Homo sapiens: one gene and its partners. The protein of the gene in region 3 purifies or fractionates together with the protein of the main gene of each other region. This does not show direct contact. Each region holds a gene or a part of one and is shown on either strand. Other genes may lie near its edges.

Region 1 (3,500 bases), on a different chromosome or scaffold from region 3:
AAGATCAGTGTAGGCAGTGTTTAATGAGACCTTGTCTCTACATTAAAAATAAAATAAAATAAATTAGCCAGGAGTGGTGACAAACTTCTATAGTCCCAGCTACTTTGGAGGCCAAGGTGGGAGGATTGCTTGAGCCTGGGGAGGTTGAGGCTGCAATGAGCCATAATCAAACCACTGCACTTCAGCCTGGGTAACAGAGCAAGACTCTGTCTCAAAAAAAAAAAAAAATTAGAAAGCTTTTGAAATTGTGAGCTAGTCTCTTTTTTGTTGATAGCTGCATTTTAAATATTTAATAGGAAAAAAGCAACATGGAAATAGATATGACATACCAACTAAAAGTTATACAGCAGAGCCTAGAACAAGAAGAAGCTGAACATAAGGCCACAAAGGCACGACTAGCAGATAAAAATAAGATCTATGAGTCCATCGAAGAAGCCAAATCAGAAGCCATGAAAGGTATGCATTTTTTAAAGAGGGTTTTCCAGCAGCGTCTTCCTAAGAATTGATTCTGTGTTAGCTTTTTGGTTTTGAAACATTTTTTTTTATATTTCATTGTCAAATATTGGGAATTGGAGGGAAAAAAACTATTAGGGAAGCTTTACATAGATATTCTATTATTTTTCCTTTGTATCATTACAGTAATCATTTCTAAGATAGTAAGACCCAAACACAAAATTACATGATCAGATTTTTAGATCAGAGATAAATTAATATTTCTCAATATTATATACCTGGTAATATCTGTACCACTCGGTATACGTGTATCAGTAGTAAGAAGGAATATCTGAACTTCACACGCTGTATACCTGTTACTATTGATACAGGTAATTCTTGTAATACAAGAGTTTTGTATTATAAAATTCTTGCCAGTTTATGCAAGGTAAGAATTTAAAAGTAATAGCTGGTCTAACTAGAATATAAGTTCACTGAGTATTTTGATCTCTAACATGATGAAGATACTAGCCAGATTTGGTCGAAGCCATATAATACTAATAGATAACAAAGTTAACCTTCCCATAAACTAGACTTTATCCTGGAATTGTCTTAGGATAATTTTTTCTTTTCCAAACTGACTGTTTATAATGACTCTGAAATTCCAGAGAAAATCAGTACTTTAAGCTATTCTTGTGAAAGGCTTAAAACTCTTGAACAGAAATTTATTTTCATATTGAAGCATTACATGAGTAACTAACTTAGAAAAAATAGCCTTTTAATTATTGCATGTAATTAAAATGGTAGATTTTCTTAGTAAAAATCAGTGTAGTTTAAGGCACTAAATCAGGATGATAAGAAATGAAATGAGTACTTTATTTACAAAAATCTAATTGTAAGGGAGAAAGTTACTGGGCCATATTTCCTTGTCTGTGGCCTAGAAGACAGAGTTCAATTATTTTCATTGAGGTATAATTTACATGCAATAATAAAATGTAAACATTTTTGACATTTCGTGATATGCTCACATAACTACTGTTCAAAACAAGATAAAGAATATATCAGGCTAGGCATGGTGGCTCACATCTGTAATCCTAGCACTTTGGGAGGCCAGGGTGGGAGGATCTCTTGAGCCCAGGAGTTTGAGACCGGCATGGGCAACATAGCAAGACCCTATCTCTACAAAAAATAGAAAAATTAGCTGGATGTAGTCGCGTGCGCCTATAGTCAGAGCTACTTGGGAGTAGGACTCTCAGTATTCCTGCAATGATGCAGGAACATTGCTTGAGCCCAGGAGTTCAAGGCTGCAGTGAGCCATGATTGCATCACTGCACTTGAGCCTCAGTAGCAGAGCAAGACCCCATCTCAAAAAAAAAAAAAGGACTATTTTCATTATCTCAGTAATGCCTCTTTCTATTCTCAATGCCTACATTATGGTGATTGTTTTTTTTGTTAAATGAGGACATTTGTTTAGTGATTATTCTCTGAATTGATAAAAATGAACCAATTCAGTATTAACTACCATTTTTTTCAAACTATTAAAACGCTAATGTAAGATACATGATGACTTCCATATTTTACACATGAGTACACAAAACTGTTACATATTATAGATGGTTTCAAATCTGAGGCTAAAGCCTTTGGTCCTTCTGTTGCATGTCATTGGCTCCTTGGATTAAGAACATGGCTCACCAAATAATTACTAGCTATGTGACCTTGTCTAGTTATTTAAACTTTCTGTGTCTTGTTTCCTGTGAAGGGACAATTACAGTATTGTTACGTTGTTGTGAAAATCAAGTGCAATAAAACATGTAAAGTGTTTAGAAATGCTATTATTAGTACTACATGGGGAATGTTTCATTTTTCTGCACTTTTGAAGACCATTCATTAAACACTAAATATTCATAGGTTTAATTTTTACCTAATACAACTTTATAATAGATGATAATTAGATGTTGAGCATTAATTATGAAAAAGCAGAGGAGCCTTAATTGAATGTGAACTGAAGTACTAACCAGTATATCAAGATAATCCTTTAACTGTGATGACTTACATTTAACACTGAAATCACTTGGAACTTTGCCTTCTGATAAGTAAAATAGATTAAAAATTTATTGTAAATAATTTAGAAAACACAGGAAAGTATAAAGAAAAAAGCAAAGATTACTCATAATCCTATGAGTTAGGATACTATTTTGTAAATTTTCTCCACTTTCTATACCGTTTTGCTTTTTAAAAAACAAGACATTGTGAGCGTTTCCTTGGTCATTAAAAATTCTGCTTAAATAATAAGCACTTACCAAGTGCTTGCCATATGCCAGGCAGCATTTAAGTGGTACACATGTATTAAATCTTCACAACCTCCCTAGGTGCTGTTATCCCTATTCTGGAGATAAGGAAACAGGTCCAGAGAGGTGAATTACTTGCCCAGTCAAACAGTGTTAGACCCAGGGTTTAAGCTCAGAAAGTTTGGTTCCAGAGTCTTGTCCTTTACCACCTCCCTAAAACATATTTTTCAACACCTGCATAATAATGTGTTAACATGGAAAGTCCTATGGAGATCATAGAATCTACCTGGATTGTTTTAAGGTAAAAATAGTAACACTGAGAGACATAGAATAGCAGTAAGCAGTAGAATATAAGAAACCTTTGTTTAAAGATGTAAGCATCTTGTAGAATATAAATAAAGGTAGAACTATCTTGCTTCCATTAGAATAGATGTAATATTGCAGAGTGTGATACATTTTTACACCCTGTGAATGAAACTCCTAATTTTCAAGTATGAAAGTGAAAATATTAAATTGAAAATTAAGGCCAGGTGCAGTGGCTCATGCCTGTAATTCCAGCACTTTGGGTGGCCGAGGCGGGTGGATTGCATGAGGCCAGGAGTTTGAGACCAGCCTGGCCAACATGGCAAAACCCCATCTCTACTAAAAATACAAAACTTAGCTGGGTGTGGTGGCACACGCCTGTAATCCGAGTTATGTCTGGAGGCCGAGGCACGAGAATTGCTTGAATCCAGGAGGTTACAAAGAGCTGAGATTGCGTCACTGCACTCCGGCCTGGGC
Region 2 (3,500 bases), on a different chromosome or scaffold from region 3:
TTAGGTTTTGATATTATGGCTGGGCGTGGTGGCTCATGCCTGTAATCCCAGCATTCTGGGAGGCCGATGCAGGTGGATCACTTGAGGCCAGGAGTTCAAGACCAAGCTGGCCAACACGGTGAAACCCTGTCACTACTAAAAATACAAAAATTAGTCAGGTGTGGTGGTGTGCACCTGTACCCCCAGCTACTCAGGAGGTTGAGGCAGGAGAATCGCTTGAACCCAGGTGGCAGAGGTTACAGTGAGCCAAGATCGTAGCACTGCACTCCAGCCTGGGTGAGAGAGAGAGACCCTGTATCAAAAAAAAAGGGGGGGGTTCGATACTACTTTTATGATAGTTTCTAGATGACTTAAAAGCTTTTCACCATTTTCTATGTTCTGGGTTATTTAAAATAACATGGGAATTGTTTTTTGTTTTTGTTTTTTGGAGACAGGGTCTCACTATGTTGCCCAGGCTGGAGTGCAGTGGCATGATCATAGCTCATTGCAGCCTTGACCTCCCAGGCTCAAGTGATATTCCTGTCTCATTCTCCTGAGTAGGTGGGACCACAGGTGTGTGCTACCAACTCCTGGCTAATTTGTTAACTCACCAGCTCAAGTCATCCTCCCACCTAGCCTCCCAAAGTGCTGGGGTAACAGGCGTGAGCCACCTCGCCTGGGCTTTTTTTTTTTTTTAATTTGTTTCCTCCTTTTTGAATCAATTTTTGTAATTTACACTGTCTCAGTATTTTCCAGTATTTTACCAATTGATAAACTGCAAATGCATATTAATATCATATTGGCATGCTGATGATGATAATCAGTAGTTACTACAGAGACACATGAGGTTACCATTTTAAAGGCTGTAGTAGAGCTTAATGCCTGTTAACACATAACTTCCTGTGGTCAGGCAAACCTCAATTGAAGACCTAGTTCTTCTACTTACTAGGTGCATTACTAGGTGCATTACTAGGTGCATTACTGAGTGAGTTACTTAAGCTTCCTAAGCTTTAATTTCCTCATCTACAAAAAATGGAGGAAGATAACTACCCTATAGGTATATTTTTAAAAAGTTACATAAAACACTTAGCACAATGTTGGGCATATGGTAAGCATTCAATAAATGTGAACATTTAAAATGTTTAGGTTGATTTTACACTAGTGAATTTTACCTTTATTTTTCTGTAATGTTATAAAGGTAACTGAATTTTCTTTTTTTTTTTGAGACAGAGTCTCGCTCTCGCTCTGTGGCGCAGGCTGGAGTGCAGTGGAGTGATCTCGGCTCACTGCAAGCTCCACCTCCTAGGTTCACCCCATTCTCCCACCTCAGCCTCCCAAGAAGCTGGGATGACAGGTGCCCGCCACCATGCCCGGCTCACTTTTTGTATTTTTAGTAGACATGGGGTTTCACCGTGTTGGCCAGGATGGTCTCGATCTCCTGACCTCATGATCTGCCCGCCTTGGCCTCCCAAAGTGCTGGGAGTGCAGGTGTGAGCCACCGTGCCCGGCCTAAAGGTACCTGATTTTTAAAAGGGAATTCAAAATGAAAACATGACAGAATTGAGATTCTAAGAATTATGCACAGTCCGCTATTTTAATTGATTCAGTTTAAAGCATGAAGTAGCTATAATAAGCACAGACCTATAAGAAATGATGTTGTAGGGAGGGAAAAAATTCAGAAAACTGAAGCTAAGACCTTACCATCAGCGCTCTCCTTTGAGCTATCAATGGAATACCACACGAATACCATATCTGAATGCTAGAAAGGAGTTGTCGGCTTCTAAATATGTCTGCAAAATTACACTAAATATTTCCACTTCATTAAACCGAAATTTATGTGTTAATTCTACGTTTTTCCTTTTTATTTTTTATACCTGAGGTTCTCCACTGATGTCGATACAACTGGCTCCATTTTCAATACATGCTTTTATTACAGGTTCTCCATAAAACCGATACTAGGGAAACAAAAAGAACAAAGAGGTTATTCTTGCTTGACAAGTTTAAATGAATAAAATGCCATCTAATCCTGGAAGTAAACAGTCCTAGTTATCAAGAAATCAACTGTTAATAAAATAGCCTAAAGATAAATTCAGAAAGTGGCCAGGCACAGTGGCTCACACCTGTAATCCCAGAACTTTGGGAGGCCGAGGCAGGTAGATCACTTGAGGTCAGGAGTTCAAGACCAGCCTGGCCAACATGGTGAAACCCCATCTCGACTAAAAATACAAAAATTAGCCGGGCGTGGTGGCACACACCTGTAATCCCAGCTACTCGGGAGGCTGAGGCAGGAGAATGGTTTGAACCTGGAAGGTGGAGATTACAGTGAGCCAAGATCGTGCCACTGCACTCCAGCCTGGGCGACAGAGTGAGACTCCGTCTCAGAAACAAAAAGATAAACTGAGAAGATACCTGCACAATACCATCTCTCACAGTGTGAATAAATAAAGGCATGATGGAATTACAGAGCAATGTATGCTTACCTCTACCTGAAGACAAAAGGAAAAGTTTCATACAAGTGATTCCCTTGAGTTGAACCCTAAAGAACAAATAAAAATTTTCCAGGAAAAAGAAAAATCCAGATACAGGAAAAAGTAAATGCAGAGGTTAAGAAAAAGGAGCTGTTCCTGTTGCTTGAAGCAGGAATCAAATTCACTTGAGTAGGAAGTAGAAAGAGATGGGTCTGAAAAGGCAGGCTACGGCCACATCAGGAAGGACCACATGTGCCATGCTAACAAGTTTCAACTTTATCCTTTCTAGTTTACTTGGCTTTCCAGAAGAATTTTAAACAGGATAGTGGTATAAGACTTATAGCACAGACGATATACTAAAGATGAGACATACAATACTAAAAAGGTGGAAATGACTGGATTTCCTGACTAGCTGGGCTGGACATGGGGGCCAAGAACCAGTGGTATTATTGGTCAAAATTAAAAACAAACCAACAGGAAGAAGAGAGTTTGCAAAGGATAAGTTTGATACTGAACAGAGCAGATATTCTGAGCCTGTATGATATTAGATTTCCCATATTATCTGTTATTCAAACTCAAGGAATTAAAATACAAATTTTCATATGTAAAAGCTAATACATCAGAATTCAGTCCCATTTCCAAAGAAGCATGACAAATCTTTTCCTTTGTGAAGAAGTAGATTAGAAGCACAAACTCCTCTGCTTTATTCATTCCTGGCAGCAAAAGATGGAACAAGGAAATCGTTTCTTTCTTCCAGCCTTTGAGGAACAAGGGACACTTAAAAGACACAATCGACCTTTACAAATAGGTCAGATGGGCTGCCCTCTTACCTAACTCCAAGACCTCACACCTCTTACTAAGAATGGCGGATAACACTGGAATTACAGGACTGGGAGAAGTGTGTGAAATTCGAGTTCCTACCCTCCCATTAACAAACCACATGAAATTAATGAAGAACTCTACTTCTGAGGCAGTATGGTATCATGGAACAAAGGATTTCAAGGCAGTAAGACCCAAGTTCACACCTGGAATCCATCACCTACTAACTATATG
Region 3 (2,787 bases):
ATTAGATGTTTGACTATTTAAACAGGCAAAACTAGGAATACATTTCTGCATATATATCAATTTTACATTCTTAGAGGGATCAGAATGTTTGATTGCAGTCAACTACAAAGAGATGGTCATTGTTTCTCTTCCTACATGTTAAAGTATCTGAATGGAGATAGCTCCAGAAAATAGTCCTGGATTGCATTTCCTGAAATAAGGAGACATTTTCAGTAGGTTAACCAGAGGATTGGATAGTAGCCACATACCAGGTTTTGAAGGTAGTGATTGTTCCTCAGGGGTTATGCTTTACACAGCTCGGATTTCCTAAAAGATAATCATTACATGAAGTACTTTAACTCAGTAGCATTTAGTTGTGGCTTAGAAATGCTGATATCATACACTTTATTTTTCGGTTCTCTTGTTTCTTACTCCCGTCTCTACTTCTCCAGCTTTAGAATTTGAGTCATTTAAGTATGTGTTTGCTTCATTCCTGTTTGGGGGCTGATTTGTACTCTTCAAAGAGTTTTGTCAGCTTTAGATCTCTGAGGGATAGATTGCCAGAGAAGGGGAAGTTTCAGTCCAGGCATATGTGCAGAGCCTTGATCAATTGAGGAAAGGAAAGGCTGTTTTACACAAGAGAGAAGCTGATGTTGTTTATGCACTTCCTAGGTAGTTAGAAACAAACCTGTGGCAAGGCAGGCTCCTGGCAAACGGAAGTGCAATTGTCGGCAAGAGATGCGGACCACCCAGCTGGGCCCTGGGCGCTTCCAAATGACCCAGGAGGTGGTCTGCGACGAATGCCCTAATGTCAAGTAAGTGAAAGCACCTTCTTTGTTCTACCAAGAAACACTTGTTAATTTCGTTCATCTAGTCAAACACTAATGGTCCATACTAGATCTTTCTCTGTCCCCTCCCCACTGCCATGTTCTGCAAAAGGATAGAGCAAAACAATGTACATTTTTTTCTGAAGTATTTGTAAATATCTCCTTTTATGTTTCTGAACTAACAAGCAGTGCCCTTTATTTCTGATACATTTTCAACAAGTATTAATGCTTCATTTTCTTCCTTCTTGTACTATTAGAGCAGCCTTATATGTTTATAAATGTATAGTAGCTTCACCCTGGATTTTAGCATATAGAAGATGTAAATGATTATCAGATAGTTTTGTCAAGTAGAGGCACACTACAGTCTTCCAAGAAAAAGCTCTGATAAAATAGGTATAACTTTATCTATATCTGATGTTTTGTTTATATTTTCATTATTTTTCTCCTCTTTTAATTCTCTTTACCTCAGACTAGTGAATGAAGAACGAACGCTGGAAGTAGAAATAGAGCCTGGGGTGAGAGACGGCATGGAGTACCCCTTTATTGGAGAAGGTGAAATATTGATATTTGATTTTTTGATTGTGATAACTTTTTGCTCTCTGCTTGTTTGTGAATACCTTTCACCCCTGCCTTACTCCATCTTAATGTTCACATAGTAAACGCATATATAATTTCCAACACTCTTCGGCCAATTTTAGGATATACAAAGCCTTTTGTTTACCTGAAGCAGTAGCATTACCGTTTATCCTTTGAATGTCATGGCCAAAAGTTATTATGAGGTAGCCTAAGTTTCATCAAAATTTAGGGTGTTCAGACCTTAATGAGTTTTAATTCAGCAATGAAAGAAGATATGTAACTCTAGTTGGCATTAATAAGATGCTCTCAGGACCTCACCTTTAGACTTAAGTTTAAAACTCTAAAAATAAAAAAAGCTTTAAGACTTAGGTTCAGGAGACCAGTGTATCATTCTTTGTTTAGGAAATGGGTCAAGTTATGTACTGCTGTATCTGAGGCAAAGGTGATGATTTCTAATAATCTGAAACTTGATACAACCAGGCAGAGACACTGCCGTCACAGATTTGACAGGTCAATGCCCAAAGTAGTGGATTAAAAAAATGTATCAGTTGCCAAATAGATTTGTGGTATTCAACTTGTATGATTTACAATATGCTGTAATCTGCTCTGACTAGGTGAGCCTCACGTGGATGGGGAGCCTGGAGATTTACGGTTCCGAATCAAAGTTGTCAAGTAAGTAATCTAATTTTAGAGGTCTTCTCAGATGAGTCAAATTATAGAGACGTAGGTGGCCACCAGAGCAGTTAGACTTTTTTCTCTGTTTCTTACCCTTATTACCCTAAACGATGATTTGTAACTCCTCTACAAGGCTGAAAACTTGGGGTTGGGCCCTAGGATTGAGCCCCAGTTATTTATTTACTTAGGACTTAAAAATGCAAAAGATGTTGAAAGGAAATAATTGATAAGTAAGGAGTTATAAAAGAGAAACAAACAAGATAGGGAGTCAAAGCTGAGATTTTAGCTGAAGAAGTATGGCACCATACAAGAATAGGAGACTTTTCCATAGACAGAACCTTCTACATAATATGCAGCTTCTGTAAAGAGAGCTTTTCTTTTGTGAGCTTCTCTTCAGCATGAAGTGCTGCTTAGACAGTTTTGCCTGGGACTCCAGCTTTCTTGATTACTGTTGCTCTCTTGTTACCACTTTGGAAACCAGTAATATCTCTGCCTTTGTAAGGAGTCATCAAAACAGGGTTCCCACCAGAATATGGAGAAATGGCCCCCCACTGTCTGGGACTTTGCCTTCCTGCACTCTTTAATCTCAGTGTTGTTTTCCCCAGCTTCTTTACCTACCTTGTCTTTATCATCACTTCTTAGAGAAACTGGAACATGTGTTGTTTCCTGAATAAACCTGACACCTTCCTTGTCTTTGCCAGAATTCCTTCTCACTCTATTTCCCCTTCCC
Region 4 (3,276 bases), on a different chromosome or scaffold from region 3:
ACTTTCTCAGACCACAGTGGAATAAAACTGGAAATCAACTCCAAAAGGAACCTTCAAAACCATGCAGATACATGGAATAACCTGCTCCTGGATGATCTTTGGGTCAAAGATGAAATCAAGATGGAAATGTAAAAATTCCTCAAACTGAATGACAATAGTGACACAACCTATCAACCTCTGGGATACAGCAAAGGTGGTGCTAAGAGGAAAGTTCATAGCCCTAAATGCCTACATCAAAAAGTTGGAAAGAGCACAGACAATCTAAGGTCACATCTCAAAGAACTAGAGAAACAAGAACAAACCCAGCAGAAGAAAGAAGATCAGAGCGGAATTAAATGAAATTGAAACAAAACAACAAAAAAATCCAAAAGATAAATGAAACAAAAAGCTGGTTCTTTGAAAAGATAAATAAAATTGATAGACCGTTAGCAAGATTAGCCAAGAAAAGAGAGAAAATCCAAATAAGCTCAATAAGAAATGAAACGGGAGATATTACAACTGACACCACAGAAATACAAAAGATATTCAAGGCTACCATGAACACCTTTACATGCATAAACTAGAAAACCTAAAATAGATGGATAAATTCCTGGAAAGATACAACCCTCCTAGCTTAAATCAGGAAGAATTACCCTGAACAGACCAGTAACAAGCAGGGAGATTGAAATGGTAATTAAAAAATTACCAACAAAAAAATGTCCAGGACTAGACGGATTCACAACAGAATTCCACCAGATATTCAAAGAAGAATTGGTACCAGTCTTAAAGACACTATTCCACAAGAGAGAGAAAGAAGGAATCCTCCCTAAATCATTCTATGAAGCCAGTATCACCCTAATACCAAAACCAGGAAAGGACATAACCAAAGAAGAAAACTACAGACCAATATCCTTGAACATAGATGCTAAAATCCTTAAGAAAATTCTAGCTAACTGATTCCAACAACATATCAAAAAGATAATCCACCATGATCAAGGGGTTTCATACCAGGGATGCAGGGATGGTTTAACATACACATGTGCGTAGCCAAAGCAAGACTAAGCAAAAAGAACAAATCTGAAGGCATCACATTACCTGATTTCAAACTTATACTATAAGGCCATAGTCACCAAAACAGCATGGTACGGTTATAAAAATAGGCACATGGACCAATGGAACAGAATAGAGAACCCAGAAATAAACCCAAATACTTACAGCCAACTGATCTTCAACAAAGCAAACAAAAACGTAAAGTGGAAAAAGGATACCCTTTTCAACAAATGGTGCTGGGATAATTGGCTAGCCACATGTAGGAGAATGAAACTGGATCCTCCTCTCTCACTGTATACAAAAATCAACCCAAGATAAATTAAAGACTTAAATCTAAGACCTGAAACTATAAAAATTCTAAAAGATACCATTGGAAAAATCATTCTAGACATTGGCTTAGGCAAGGATTTCATGAACCCAAAAGCAAATGCAATAAAAACAAAGATAAATAGCTGGGACTTAATTAAACTAAAGAACTTTTGCAGAGCAAAAGGAAAAGTCAGCAGAGTAAACAGACAACCCACAGAGAAGGAGAAAATCTTTCATAATATATACATCTGAAAAAGAACAAATATCCAGAATCTACAATGAACTCCAACAAATCAGCAAGAAAAGCAGTCCCATCAAAAAGTGGGCTAAGGACATGAATAGACAATTCTTAAAAGAAGATATACAAATGGCCAATAAACATATGGAAAAATGCTCAACATCACTAATGATCAGGGAAATGCAAATCAAAACCACAGTGCGATACCACCTTACTTCTGCAAGAATGGCCATAATAAAAAAATCAAAAAAATAGTAGATGTTGGCATGGATGTGGTGAACACGGAACACTTCTACACTGCTGGTGGGAATGTAAACTAGTACAACCACTATGGAAAACAGTGTGGAGATTCCTTAAAGAACTAAAAGTAGAACTACCATTTGGTCCAGCAATCCCACTACTAGATATCCACCCAGAGGAAAAGAAGTCATTATACAAAAAAGATACGTGCACACGCATGTTTATAGCAGCACAATTCGCAATTGCAAAAACGTGGAACCAACCCAAATGCCCATCAATCAATGCGTGGATAAAGTAACTGTGATATATATACATACAATGGAATACTCCTCAGCCATAAAAAGGAGTGAATTAATGGCATTCACAGTGACCTGGATAAGATTGGAGACTATTATTCTAAGTGAAAGAACTCAGGAATGGAAAACCAAACATCGCTATGTTCTCACTCATAAGTGGGAGCTAAGCTATGAGGATGCAAAGGCATAAGAATGACACAATAAACTTTGGGGACTCAGGGAGAAAGGGTGGGAAGGGGATGAGGAATAAAAGACAAAAATTGGGTGCAGTGTATACTGCTCAGGTGATGGGTGTACCAAAATCTCACAAATCACCACTAAAGAAGTTAACCAACACCACCTGTTCCCCAGTAACCTATGGAAAGAAAGAAATGTCTCATATGTTTCTGCCTAAATTGGTCTTTAATACTTTAGCGATTCTCTTGAGTTTGGATTATAAAATAGTTTTTGGTCTTTTTGTATTTTCTGCTGTAAGCCTGTATGATTATGTAATGGTGAGTAAAATTGCTAGGCCAGATACGCAGTTCTAGGAAGTTATGCAAAGATGTGCTTTAGTATATTATTTTCTACCTTTTTAAATTCATTTTGAGCTTGGCTTTTGAGCCTCTATTTTCCAAGGTGGGGTGTATGTTTTTATAATGTTATGCTTAGCCCTTGTGTATTTTCATCTCTGAGTTTGAAATTTGGGGTTATATTGGCAAAGGGAGGTTTGGGTTTTAATTAGGTGACCTGTTAGAGGAAATGTTAAGCTTCTGTTTCTTTAGGGTAGACAGTGAGAGATTTATCAAGATAAAGAAGAAAAATAAATCCTAAAGTTAATATTCAATACATGATGATGTCACCCTTACTAAAGCCAAAGAGGGCATTATCCTATCATTCTCATCGCTAAGAACTCTTCTCCTCTTGGCACATGCTTATTCAGTTAAAGATAAGCCAAGCCTTTCTTTTGTATTTTTTTTTTAAGAGAACAAATTTACTTTGGTTTTGAGTTTTATTCCTGGCTCTGGGTAGCTTATTTTTTTGACCCTTATTTTCCCCAATTTATAAAATGAAATAGTTATCTTCACTCCCCAGGATTGTTGTGAAGAGTAAGTCAAAAGATACAATGAGGTGACTCAGGCAAAAGTACCTGGCCCTGTGTAGTGAGTACATTGTATGTGTTAC
Region 5 (3,500 bases), on a different chromosome or scaffold from region 3:
CATTTAATTCTCACACCAACTCTATAAGGCTTTAGTGTTGTCAGTTTTGGCATGCTGAAGTTAAAACTCAGGGAAGGATTCTAAATGACCCAAAATTAAATATAGTATTTTGCTCATATTTTTATGCTTCTGTTGCCTATCCTGACTTACAGCTTCATTGCTCAAAAAAGATTATACTAGAATCACTTTTACATATTTTAGCTTCTCTAAAGTTGGTTTCATAAATAGAAAAAAGCACATATAGGCTTAAAAGTATATGCCTTAAAGGCATTGTTTGCTGCTTTTACTCTCTGCCTTTTTTCACTTTCTCTCTCTCTCTCTCTCTCTCTCTCTCTCTTTTTTATATAGAGGAATTACAAAATACTTTTGTTGAAATACACCTTAATCATCATCTAATCCAACTAACCTTTGGAAGCCGTGGGTAGCATATTCTCCCATAATTGTAGTCACTACTAACTTGTCAAACTATCTATGCTTAATTACACTTGCAGGGCTATTCCATTCATTTTTTAACTTCTCTTACTATTACAACCTCTTCCTTCTATTGGGTAAAAATATGTTATGTGATACCCCCCAAGCAGTCTCAGTTTTACTCTCTGGGCCATAACATCATAATGTCTACTAAAAATGTTTCATACATTACATTTCTGCCACATGGTTAGCTTTCTGCTAGCTTTCTGAGGAAGAGTACATTTCTAAAGACATTGCATGTGTGATCATGTGTCCGTCTCTCACATTTGAGAGTTCAGAAATGTCCTTCAGAGTTTGAAGGCATTGCTTCCATTTCAGTGAGAGATCTGAAGCTATTTCAGTGCTTAATCTTTTGTTTATGATCTCTTTTTATCCCCAACTCCCTGGACATGGATAGGCATTTTTCTTTGTCTACAGGGTTCTGAAATTTCAGTGATGTCCTTTAATGCGGGTTTCTTTCCATCCATTATACTCTTCACTCAGAATGCCCTTACAGTCTGTAAACTTACTCCCCTCACTTCTTGGATCTTTTCTTGAATAATATCTTAGATTTCTCCTCTGCTGCTTCTAGTGTTCTCTCTGGAGCAACTTTTGATTCTCCAATTTCTAAAAATCTTTTTTTTTTTAAATCTCCTTTTTTGAATTTTTGGGCAATTTCCTCCAGTTTATATAATAACCTTTCTATTGAGTTTTTTATTTTCTACACTTTTGAAATGCGTTCGGTACTAATTTTAAAAGTCTGCAATGTGGCTGGCAAGGCTGGTCTTTCTACTCTCCAGCTTGTTTCCTTCATTCTCTGTTTAGGTCCCACTAGCTTTCCAAAGTTTTAAAAAGCCACGTTTTCTCTTGTTACAGGGCCTTTTTGCACATGCTATGTAGCATTTCTATCCCATTTTACTTAGTTAACTCCTATTTATTTTTTTCATTGACAACTTATTGATTACATCCTCAAGCCTTCCCAGATCACATTAGCCAGGCCAGACCTCATTATATGCTTTCATGATTCCATGCACATTTTGCATTCTTTCCAATCAGACCACTAATGCAGCAGTCATGCATGTTTTTATCCCCAGTGCTTATTAAAAAGAACCCGTCACGTAATAGCCGCTCATTAAATATTTGTGTAACAAAAACAGAACGAATACGTAGGTTAAGTTCAACCAGAGGGATGGTATTTACTGAGAGTAACGGGGAGCCAGGATTTGGAACTCTGAGGAAGAATTGAGAGGGATCAGGTAAAGGAAGTACAGCCCCTGAAGGAGACTGAAAAGAACCAGCCAAAGAGGAGAAAGGGACACTTAGAAAGCACAGTGTCATGAAGCATTTTAAGCAGGAAAGAATGGTTAGCATTGCCAAAATAGGAGCAAGCAACATTGGGCTTGAAAAGGGGCTAATGGACTAATAAGAAAAGTAATTAATAACTGAACAGCCTCAAGGTGAATGGAAGGAAGGTTAAAGAAGAAGTAATGAAATAACGTGTGTAGATAACTCTGGAGTTTAGTTGTGAAGGGAAAGAAAATGATACCTAGAGAAGAGCATCAAAGTCAGATCTTTTTGTAGTTTGCTTTTTTACTTTGTTTTTACTTAACCCATTTATGCCTAAGGTTGCAATTTTTTGAATTTTTGCAATCAGACCTTGGCGATGACCTTGAACAACAGGGTATAAGTAACTCCCACATGCTTAGTGTTCCAGTAATGGAACACAGAAGAAACAGCATACAGCATTTAAATGAAGAGAGAGAAGATTTTTAAAAACTAGGAGTTGGGCAGCATAATTATTAATATAATTATTAATAGGTATCAGTCACATGTCCTTTTCAAGTACCAGAGACCATGCCAAGCATTTTACAGTCAGAAGCTAATCCCTGTAATACCTTACAGATATAATAGATATCGTCATCTGTCAAATGGTGATCTGTTTTATAAATGAGGGAACTGAGGCATGCAAGAGGGGGTAGAATCTAGAACCCTGATAGGAGTAGCCGCAGTAACTCCTCCATGTTTAAAGGAGGGCAGGGTGCCAGGATGGGTGTGGGTGCAAATGTATTTAGTTGAGGCGCGAGCATGGCATTAAAGAACATGGGCTTGGGAAACCGTAATGGCAGATTTCAGTTTATAGCCCAGCTCTGTTAGCTTTATAAATCCCAGAAAGTGACAGTTTCTTTCAGCTTGTTTCCTCTTCTTTAAATGGGGATAATAATAGGATTACAGGATATTAGCATGATCATTGTGATTAATATAAGTAAACAGTGCCTGAACACTGTTGGTGGGAATATGAATTAGTACAGCTATTATGGAAGTTCCTCAAAAAACTAAAAATAGAACTACCATGTGATCCAGCAATCCCACTAGTAGGTATATATCCAAAGGAAAGGAAATCAGTATGTCAAAGAGATACCTGTACTCCAGTGTTTATTGCTGCACTATTCATAATAGCCAGAATATGGAATCACCCTAAGTGTCCACTAATAGATGAATGGATAAAGAAAATGTGGTATATATACACAATGGAATACTATTCAGCCATAAAAAATAATGAAGTCCTTACATTTGCAGCAACATGGATGAACTGGAGGACATTAAGTGAAATAAGCCAGGCACAGAAAGATAAATACCACATGTACTCCCTCATGTGGAAGCTAAAAAGGTTGATTTCATAGAAGAGTATAGAATAGTGGTAGGTAGTAGAGGATGGGAAGGGTAGGGGGAGCAGGGATAGGGAGAGGTTGGTTAATGGATACAAAAGTACAGCTCGATAGGAGTAATTCTAGTGTTCTATAGCTCTATACGGTGAGTGTAATTAACAATTTATCGTATATTTTCAAATAGCTTGAAGAGCAGATTTTGAAAGTTCCCAACGCAATGATAAATGTTTGAGTTAATGGATATGCTAATTACCCCAATTTGATCATTACATATTGTAAACATATCAAAATATCATGTACATCATAAATATGTGTAATTGTGTGTCAGTTTAAAATAATAATAAAAGCAAAAACATAAGTAGTAATGGAAGGCAAGGTCCTTTG
Region 6 (3,500 bases), on a different chromosome or scaffold from region 3:
TCCAAGTGGAGGTGGCCAGGAGGCATCTGGGAACACATAGGGGACTGAGGCTCAGTGGTGTTAGTTCATTACTACCTGACTGCAAACCTCCGCCGACTCATGAAACTCCCCTCGTGTCATGTCATTTTGCCTTTTGTAGCAGGGCCGTGGATTTGTGATGATGGACACTGTGGCCCTGTGGCTAGAAAATAGGGGCTTAGACCAGGCACGGTGGCTCACGCCTGTAATCCCAGCACTTTGGGAGGCCGAGGCGGGCAGATCACAAAGTCAAGAGATCGAGACCATCCTGGCCAACATGGTGAAATCCCATCTCTACTAAAAATACAAAAATAAATTAGCCGGGCCTGGTGGCGTGCACCTGTAATTGCAGCTACCCGGGAGGCTGAGGCAGGAGTGTCGCTTGAATCTGGGAGGCAGAGGTTGCAGTGAGCTGAGATTGCGTCACTGCACTCTAGCCTGGCGACAGAGCGAGACTCCATCTCAAAAAAAAAAAAAGAAAAGAAGGGCTTAGAGGACTGAGCTCTGTGACTGGATAGGTAAGGGGAGATCACCACAGAGAGCACCCTAGACTCGGAGCAGGAGACCTGCCTGCTAGCCAGCCTCTGCCCTGACTGCCTGTGCAACTGTGCTGCTCTCCCCAGACAAATGACCGGGAGCCATGACGTCATCGGGGGCGCAGGAAAGCAGGTGCTCTGCTGCTTTTGCAAGCAGAGAAATAAGAGTTTGGGCACCTACCCAGGGGTCCCAGGGAATGCCCTGTGGCTCCTGACCTCCCCCGCCTGTAATGCTCTGAGCACTTCAGCAGTAATGCATGGAAGAGATAAGGGTCTGTGACCCATGGAACTGTCCAAGTCCTCTCTGACACCCGCTTCTTTTCCTGCCGTGAAGGTAAGCCACTTTATAGATCCTAGGCCTGAAACCCAATGTTGGGAGGGAGTGTTTGTTTTCAAGAAGAAAGAGAGACTGAAACTAGAACATGCACATTTCTATCCAGAAGAAAACAGTTGGAGTAGACTAGAGTCCTACAAAGAGGGCAACAGGGAAGAAGATTCTGGACTGAGTAAAGGGGACCCACTCCTGGGTCCACCTCCTGCCTGGGCCCTCTGGAGAGAGAATTGGCCAGATTCAGCCCTGAGTCACAGCACCCTCCCCAGTTGCTGCCTCACAGCCATCTCCACACCAGCAGCCATGCCCCCAGCGGCAGCTCGCCCACACCTCTGTGGGACCTCCCCACCGTCTCGCAGCCCATCTGCTCCAGGCTTCTACTGACGATTTCGTATTTCACATGGACTCATTTCTCCTCAGACACTCCAGATGGGGAATGCCTTTCTGCAATATCAAAGTGCCCCATTAGACTGGGGAGGAATCATGAGGGGACATACCCCTGCCCCTGCCACAGAGTCGAGCATGGCAGCTGAATATCTCTCACACTGGCATGGCCCCCATCCTCTGGAGAAAGGAGGCCTCAGTGCAGTCAGCCTCTTCAGGAGGCAGAAATGTTGAGAAGTTCTCGCCACCCCTGCTGGGTGACTTTGGGGAGGTGTCTCCTCAGACCTCTGTTTCTCCATCTGGACGGTAAGCATGCTTGAAAGGTTGGGTTTTTGTTTGTTTTTTGAGACCGGATCTCCCTCTGTCTGCCAGGCTGGAGTTCTGTGGCGTAATCACGGCTCACTGCAGCCTCAACCTCCCAGACTCAAGCGATCCTCCCACCTCAGCCTCCCAAGTAGTTGGGACTACAGGTGCTCGCCACCACACCCTGCTTTGTTGTTGTTGTTGTTGTTGTTGTTGTTGTTGTTGTAGAGACAGGATTTCGTCATGTTGGCCAGGCTGGCCTTGAACTCCTGAGCTCAAACGATCTGCCCACCTCGGCCTCCCAAAGTGCTGGAATTACAGGCATGAGCCACTGTGTCTGCCAGCCAGATAGTTTTTGATGTGCCAAGGTTCATTCCAGACCATCTCCCACATCTTCTACCTGTCTTGTCACTGTGCCTTTACTCTCTCATCTCCTCTACCAGCACAGGCTCTTCTGGGGGTAATACTGGGGCCAGTTCCTCTTGGCATCCCTACCTGCCATGTCAGGGAAGGATTGCTGAATCTGGTCCACAGGTTGGCTCTGGGGAAAGTATAGTGTTGGAAGCTGGAGCTGAGATCTCCTGTTTTCTAGAACATGTGGTGAAGGAGACTTGCCAGCCATAGATGCTGACAGCTGAGAGATTAGGGGGGCTTTGTTAAGGAGTGGATAGGGTGCCTTCAGGAGAGTGCTCTGACAGAGTCCTGCATTTGCACTGACCTTGCAGCCAGTTTCAGAGAAGCTTGGGGTGTTATGACAGCAAAGGACAGGCCACCAGGAGCCAAGAGCATCTTCATGGCAAGGCAAGTCAGCATGGGAGCAGTGAAAGTCTAGAAAGGATTGTCATTCACATGCACACGTATGTTTATTGCGGCACTATTCACAGTAGCAAAGACTTGGAACCAACCCAAATGTCCAACAATGATAGACTGGATTAAGAAAATGTGGCACATATACACCATGGAATACTATGCAGCCATAAAAAATGATGAGTTCATGTCCTTTGTAGGGACATGGATGAAATTGGAAATAATCATTCTCAGTAAAGACTACTGCAAGGACAAAAAACCAAACACCGCATGTTCTCACTCATAGGTGGGAATTGAACAATGAGAACACATGGACACAGGAAGGGGAACATCACACTCTGGGGACTGTTGTGGGGTAGGGGGAGGGGAGAGGGATAGCATTAGGAGATATACCTAATGCTAAATGACGAGTTAATGGGTGCAGCACACCAGCATGGCGCATGTATACATATGTAACTAACCTGCACATTGTGCACATGTACCCTAAAACTTTAATAATAATAAAATTTAAAAAAATTTAAAAAAAACAGGATTGTCATTTGCAGTCCGGACAGCTGAGTGACCCACTGTGGGCCTTGAAGATAGATGGAAATGACACTAATCATGGCCATTCATTGTCAAATCTTTGAGAGAGAATAATAATTAAATTCAGCAGTGTCACTGGTACAGAAGGAGGAGCACTGAGCCTGGAGTCATAAATCTCAAACCATTTGTTGAGTACTTAGAACCGATCTTTGGCTAGTAAGCATTTACACATTTTTCTTTCATATAAAAGGACCTGAGTTTGAATCCTGGCAAGGCACTTCACCTTTCTGAGCTTGAGGAATGAATCCTGGCACAGTTTTCCTCATCTGCACAACAGGAATGGATGATTATATTGTCTGTGTCAAAAGATGATACAACCTTTTTTTTTTTTTTTTTTTTGAGACAGAGTTTCACTCTTGTTGTCCAGGCTGGAGTGCAGTTGTTCAGTCCCGGCTCACTGCAACCTCCACCTCCTGAGTTCAAATGATTCTCCTGCCCCAGCCTCCTGAACAGCTGGGATTACAGGCACCCACCACCATGCCCAGCTAATTTTTGTATTTTTAGTAGAGATGGGGTTTCACCATGTTGGCCAGTCT
Region 7 (3,500 bases), on a different chromosome or scaffold from region 3:
ATTTTTTTTTTCTAGCTTCCCATTGGCCAAACCCACCTCCTGATCCCTTTCTAAATGTCTAATTCTTCTGGACTGTTGTCAATCCATAGCTGACCAGGCCGATTTTCTTTATCACTGTCTTTCTTTCCTGTGTAACAACCACTTAGTCTTAATGGTGGTAAGATTGCTCTGGATAAAGTGCTGATATTAACATATTTACCCAGAGGGTATGGGGAGATAATGCGGGAGGGTGGGCAAGTAAACAGCAGTACATTTTGTTGAATGAGAATAATAAACTACCTAAACTCAGTTTTCATTATTATGCCTTTTAAACCTTTTTTTTTTTTTTTTTTTTTTTTGAGACGGAATCTCACTCTGTCACCCAGGCTGGAGTGCAGTGGTGCGATGTCGGCCACTGCAAACCTCCGCCTCCCAAGTTCAAGCGGTTTTCCTGCCTCAGCCTCCCGAGTAGCTGGGACTACAGGCGTGCACCACCATGCCCGGCTAATTTTTGTGTTTTTTTTTTTAGTAGAGACGGGGTTTCATTGTGTTGGCCAGGCTGGTTTTGAACTCCTGACCCTCATGATCCGCCCACCTCGACCTCCCAAAGTGATGGGATCACAGGCATGAGCCCCTGTGCCCGGCCTCTTAAATATTCTTGATCAAAGTTACTAACGGGGTATCACTTAAGGTTTTTGGCAATAATGGCCAAAGAGTGAAGGGGTTGGGGGATGACGACTTTAGCATCAATTTTACAGGATAAGAAAAGGCAATAAATTATAATTTGCCTTAACAATATTATCTTAAACATATTTTGACAGCTATTCAGGATTATGAAACTGCTCAGGAACACAATGAAAATGATCAGCAGATTCGAGAAGGTCTAGAGAAAGCACAAAGATTATTGAAACAGTCGCAGAAACGAGATTATTATAAAATCTTGGGAGTAAAAAGGTGAATTATTAATTTAAAATTTACTTTGCTATTTTTAATCAACTCTGTTTCAAAGCTAATCATTGCTCTTTTTCCTCTCTGATTCATTTTCTTTACTTATGTAATTTCAGTCATATGGATTAAACCTTAACAGTCTTTAACATTAGAAAGCTACTTTGAGTATTTTATAGGCAAGTTTCTTTGATAGAGACCAATAATGCAACAACAGAATTAGTAGTTGGCAACAAAGATGACACTGTAGCATGAATGGGTCCTAAGCCTAGATTTTTTAAGAAGGGTAAAGGGGTAGGAGTGAGATTCCTTTTGGTGGGGATGGAGGAGGAGACGGAATGAGTAAAGAAAAAGCCTTCTCTAGGCCTAAAAATAAAGTAGTGCTTTCAGAATTAAGTCTGAAATTAAGATCTACCTTATATAAAAGTACATACTAAGTAAATGATACACCTCCCAGTGCCTGTGGGTGAATTCTGAAATTAAGTAAATGATATACCTCCCAGTGGTTCGCTGAGTAAACCATCAATTTTTCAAAATTTGGAATCTTTGTGCTTACTATTAAGTAAGCTAATGCAGAAGCATAATTGAAAGTGGCATTCAGAGTCAAATATTTTTTAATACCAAGAATTGAATTATGGTAACTTGGAAATTCAGAAAGTTAAAAAATTCATTGATGTACCTTTTTTAAAAAAGGGAAAGTTCTAAAGATCAGGAGTGCTTTATTCTCAGTAATCTTAGTGAGCGAGTATCCAAGGAAGCCTGATGTCAGCTTTAATGATCATCCAGAACTGTGTATGCAGATCTTTGGCCTGTGATACCATTGGAACTATTTTATAAAACCAGTTTTGTTAATTGCCAGTAGGATCTTAATCAGCTCTTCTGATTTTTATGATAGTATGTTAGACACTTTTCCACTAATGATTATTTATTTTACCACCCCTCAGAAATGCCAAAAAGCAAGAAATTATTAAAGCATACCGAAAATTAGCACTGCAGTGGCACCCAGATAACTTCCAGAATGAAGAAGAAAAGAAAAAAGCTGAGAAAAAGTTCATTGATATAGCAGCTGCTAAAGAAGTCCTCTCTGATCCAGGTATTATTAGCTTTTATTCCTTTGACTCATCCTAGAGGTGGTGTTAGAAGCGAGGGTGGAACATGTGGTGGGTTCTCCACGTGGGGCTGTATAGGCAGTGACGGGTCCTGAGCCCAGTTCCAGAGGTCCAGTTTTATGCCTGCCCTCATTCAGCCCTCTTATGTTGGGCACCCTCCTGTTGCAGGGTACAGTGGAAAGACTATCAAATGTGGAATCAGAGGGCCTGAATTTGAATCTTTTTTCTACTCAAAGAAGTTATCAGAACTTTTTGGTCTCAGTTTTTTCAACACTGAGCATAAGAGGATCTCTCAGGTTCCCTCTAACCTCAAAGGTCAATGATGAATTTTCTCCACCAAGCTTACAGGAGCTTGATGAGGAAACCAGCTTGCCAGGCTGGATTACATGGAGTGGGAGAAGAACAGCTGTCTGGCCTAGGGCCTGCTTTGCCCCATATGTGTTCACCAGGAATCTTGCCCTGAATCATAGGATCATTAGATTCACAGGCTTATATGTGTTTTTTTTTTTTTTAATTTTTATTTTTTGTAGAAATGGGATCTCACTGTGTTGCCCAGGCTGGTCTTTAACTCCTGGGCTAAAGTGATCTTCCCAAAGTTCTGAGATTACAGGTGTGAGCCTCTGCACCTGGCCACATGTGTTCTTTTGCCATACAGTAATATGGCCTGGAAATTTCGTTAAGAGGGAGACAGGCTAAGCATTGAGGTAATACTGAACAATGCTTTGCTGCTGCCAGAGAATTTCATGTTAAGCTTATACTGCTTTTTTGTGGCCTTCCATGTCAGTGGGAACAGCAGCTGTGATCTGAGCTAAACAAACAAAAGAGAGGAAAGTTTTATGTTTGTCAAATCTTTTTTGAGTACTTACTTATGCAGTGGAATTGAAAGTAAATGATCCTTTGTTTTCAAGTAATTTATAATCCAGTAAAGGAGACAGAAATGTACTTGCAGTGGAATTGAAAGTAAATGATCCTTCGTTTTCAAGTAATTTATAATCCAGTAAAGGAGACAGAAATGTACTTCCCTTATCAAGTAGTGTTGGATACATACTGTCCTGTTACTTAGCAAATACTGAGTGGCTACAACCTGCCTTAAGCAGTTCAATCCTCTTAGTTTGTGCAGTGCACAGGTGTGATAGTGTATCAGACTGGGAGTCAGGATCTTCTTATGTGAGAGGGACTTTGTGCTACGTTTTAAGGTACCAGGGAGCCAACCAAGGGGATGGGTGTCCCTGCACAGAGGCATGCACTGAGGAAAGAGCTGCAGGTCCTTTTTCTTACCTCCTGTTCTTCTGTTCAGGATGAACTATCTTTTCTTTTAAAGACTTTAAAGTTTTTTACTATGCATATATCAAGACGTGTCATATTTAGGAATATGTTTAGTAGAATCACATGATGTATGCCAATCTGAAACTTAATTTTCACTTGAAATAAATCTTGGCTATAGTTTTTTCTCATTGAAAAATGGTT

What was found.
Region 1: the proteins of DNAJB11 (region 3) and ROCK2 purify together in Homo sapiens (affinity purification with mass spectrometry; 4 studies listed by BioGRID and IntAct, with this or other methods). This does not show direct contact.
Region 2: the proteins of DNAJB11 (region 3) and SCCPDH purify together in Homo sapiens (affinity purification with mass spectrometry; 3 studies listed by BioGRID and IntAct, with this or other methods). This does not show direct contact.
Region 4: the proteins of DNAJB11 (region 3) and ZNG1C purify together in Homo sapiens (affinity purification with mass spectrometry; 3 studies listed by BioGRID and IntAct, with this or other methods). This does not show direct contact.
Region 5: the proteins of DNAJB11 (region 3) and BORA purify together in Homo sapiens (affinity purification with mass spectrometry; 3 studies listed by BioGRID and IntAct, with this or other methods). This does not show direct contact.
Region 6: the proteins of DNAJB11 (region 3) and KCTD21 purify together in Homo sapiens (affinity purification with mass spectrometry; 4 studies listed by BioGRID and IntAct, with this or other methods). This does not show direct contact.
Region 7: the proteins of DNAJB11 (region 3) and DNAJC3 purify together in Homo sapiens (affinity purification with mass spectrometry; 3 studies listed by BioGRID and IntAct, with this or other methods). This does not show direct contact.

What each region holds. Positions count from the first base shown.
Region 1 is NC_000002.12:11,208,637-11,212,136, reverse strand, and holds part of ROCK2 (rho-associated protein kinase 2), read left to right. Parts: intron 1-296; coding exon 297-456; intron 457-3,500. UniProt on the Homo sapiens protein: Protein kinase which is a key regulator of actin cytoskeleton and cell polarity.
Region 2 is NC_000001.11:246,734,409-246,737,908, reverse strand, and holds part of SCCPDH (saccharopine dehydrogenase-like oxidoreductase), read right to left. Parts: intron 1,935-3,500; coding exon 1,854-1,934; intron 1-1,853.
Region 3 is NC_000003.12:186,580,720-186,583,506, forward strand, and holds part of DNAJB11 (dnaJ homolog subfamily B member 11 isoform 1 precursor), read left to right. Parts: intron 1-651; coding exon 652-794; intron 795-1,275; coding exon 1,276-1,358; intron 1,359-1,996; coding exon 1,997-2,054; intron 2,055-2,787. UniProt on the Homo sapiens protein: As a co-chaperone for HSPA5 it is required for proper folding, trafficking or degradation of proteins.
Region 4 is NC_000009.12:68,293,983-68,297,258, forward strand, and holds part of ZNG1C (zinc-regulated GTPase metalloprotein activator 1C), read left to right. Parts: intron 1-3,276.
Region 5 is NC_000013.11:72,748,423-72,751,922, forward strand, and holds part of BORA (protein aurora borealis), read left to right. Parts: intron 1-3,500. UniProt on the Homo sapiens protein: Required for the activation of AURKA at the onset of mitosis.
Region 6 is NC_000011.10:78,175,127-78,178,626, reverse strand, and holds part of KCTD21 (BTB/POZ domain-containing protein KCTD21), read left to right. Parts: intron 1-641; exon of another isoform or gene 642-1,496; coding exon of another isoform or gene 1,497-1,575; intron 1,576-3,500. UniProt on the Homo sapiens protein: Probable substrate-specific adapter of a BCR (BTB-CUL3-RBX1) E3 ubiquitin-protein ligase complex mediating the ubiquitination and subsequent proteasomal degradation of target proteins. Promotes the ubiquitination of HDAC1.
Region 7 is NC_000013.11:95,785,139-95,788,638, forward strand, and holds part of DNAJC3 (dnaJ homolog subfamily C member 3 precursor), read left to right. Parts: intron 1-800; coding exon 801-933; intron 934-1,868; coding exon 1,869-2,017; intron 2,018-3,500. UniProt on the Homo sapiens protein: Involved in the unfolded protein response (UPR) during endoplasmic reticulum (ER) stress.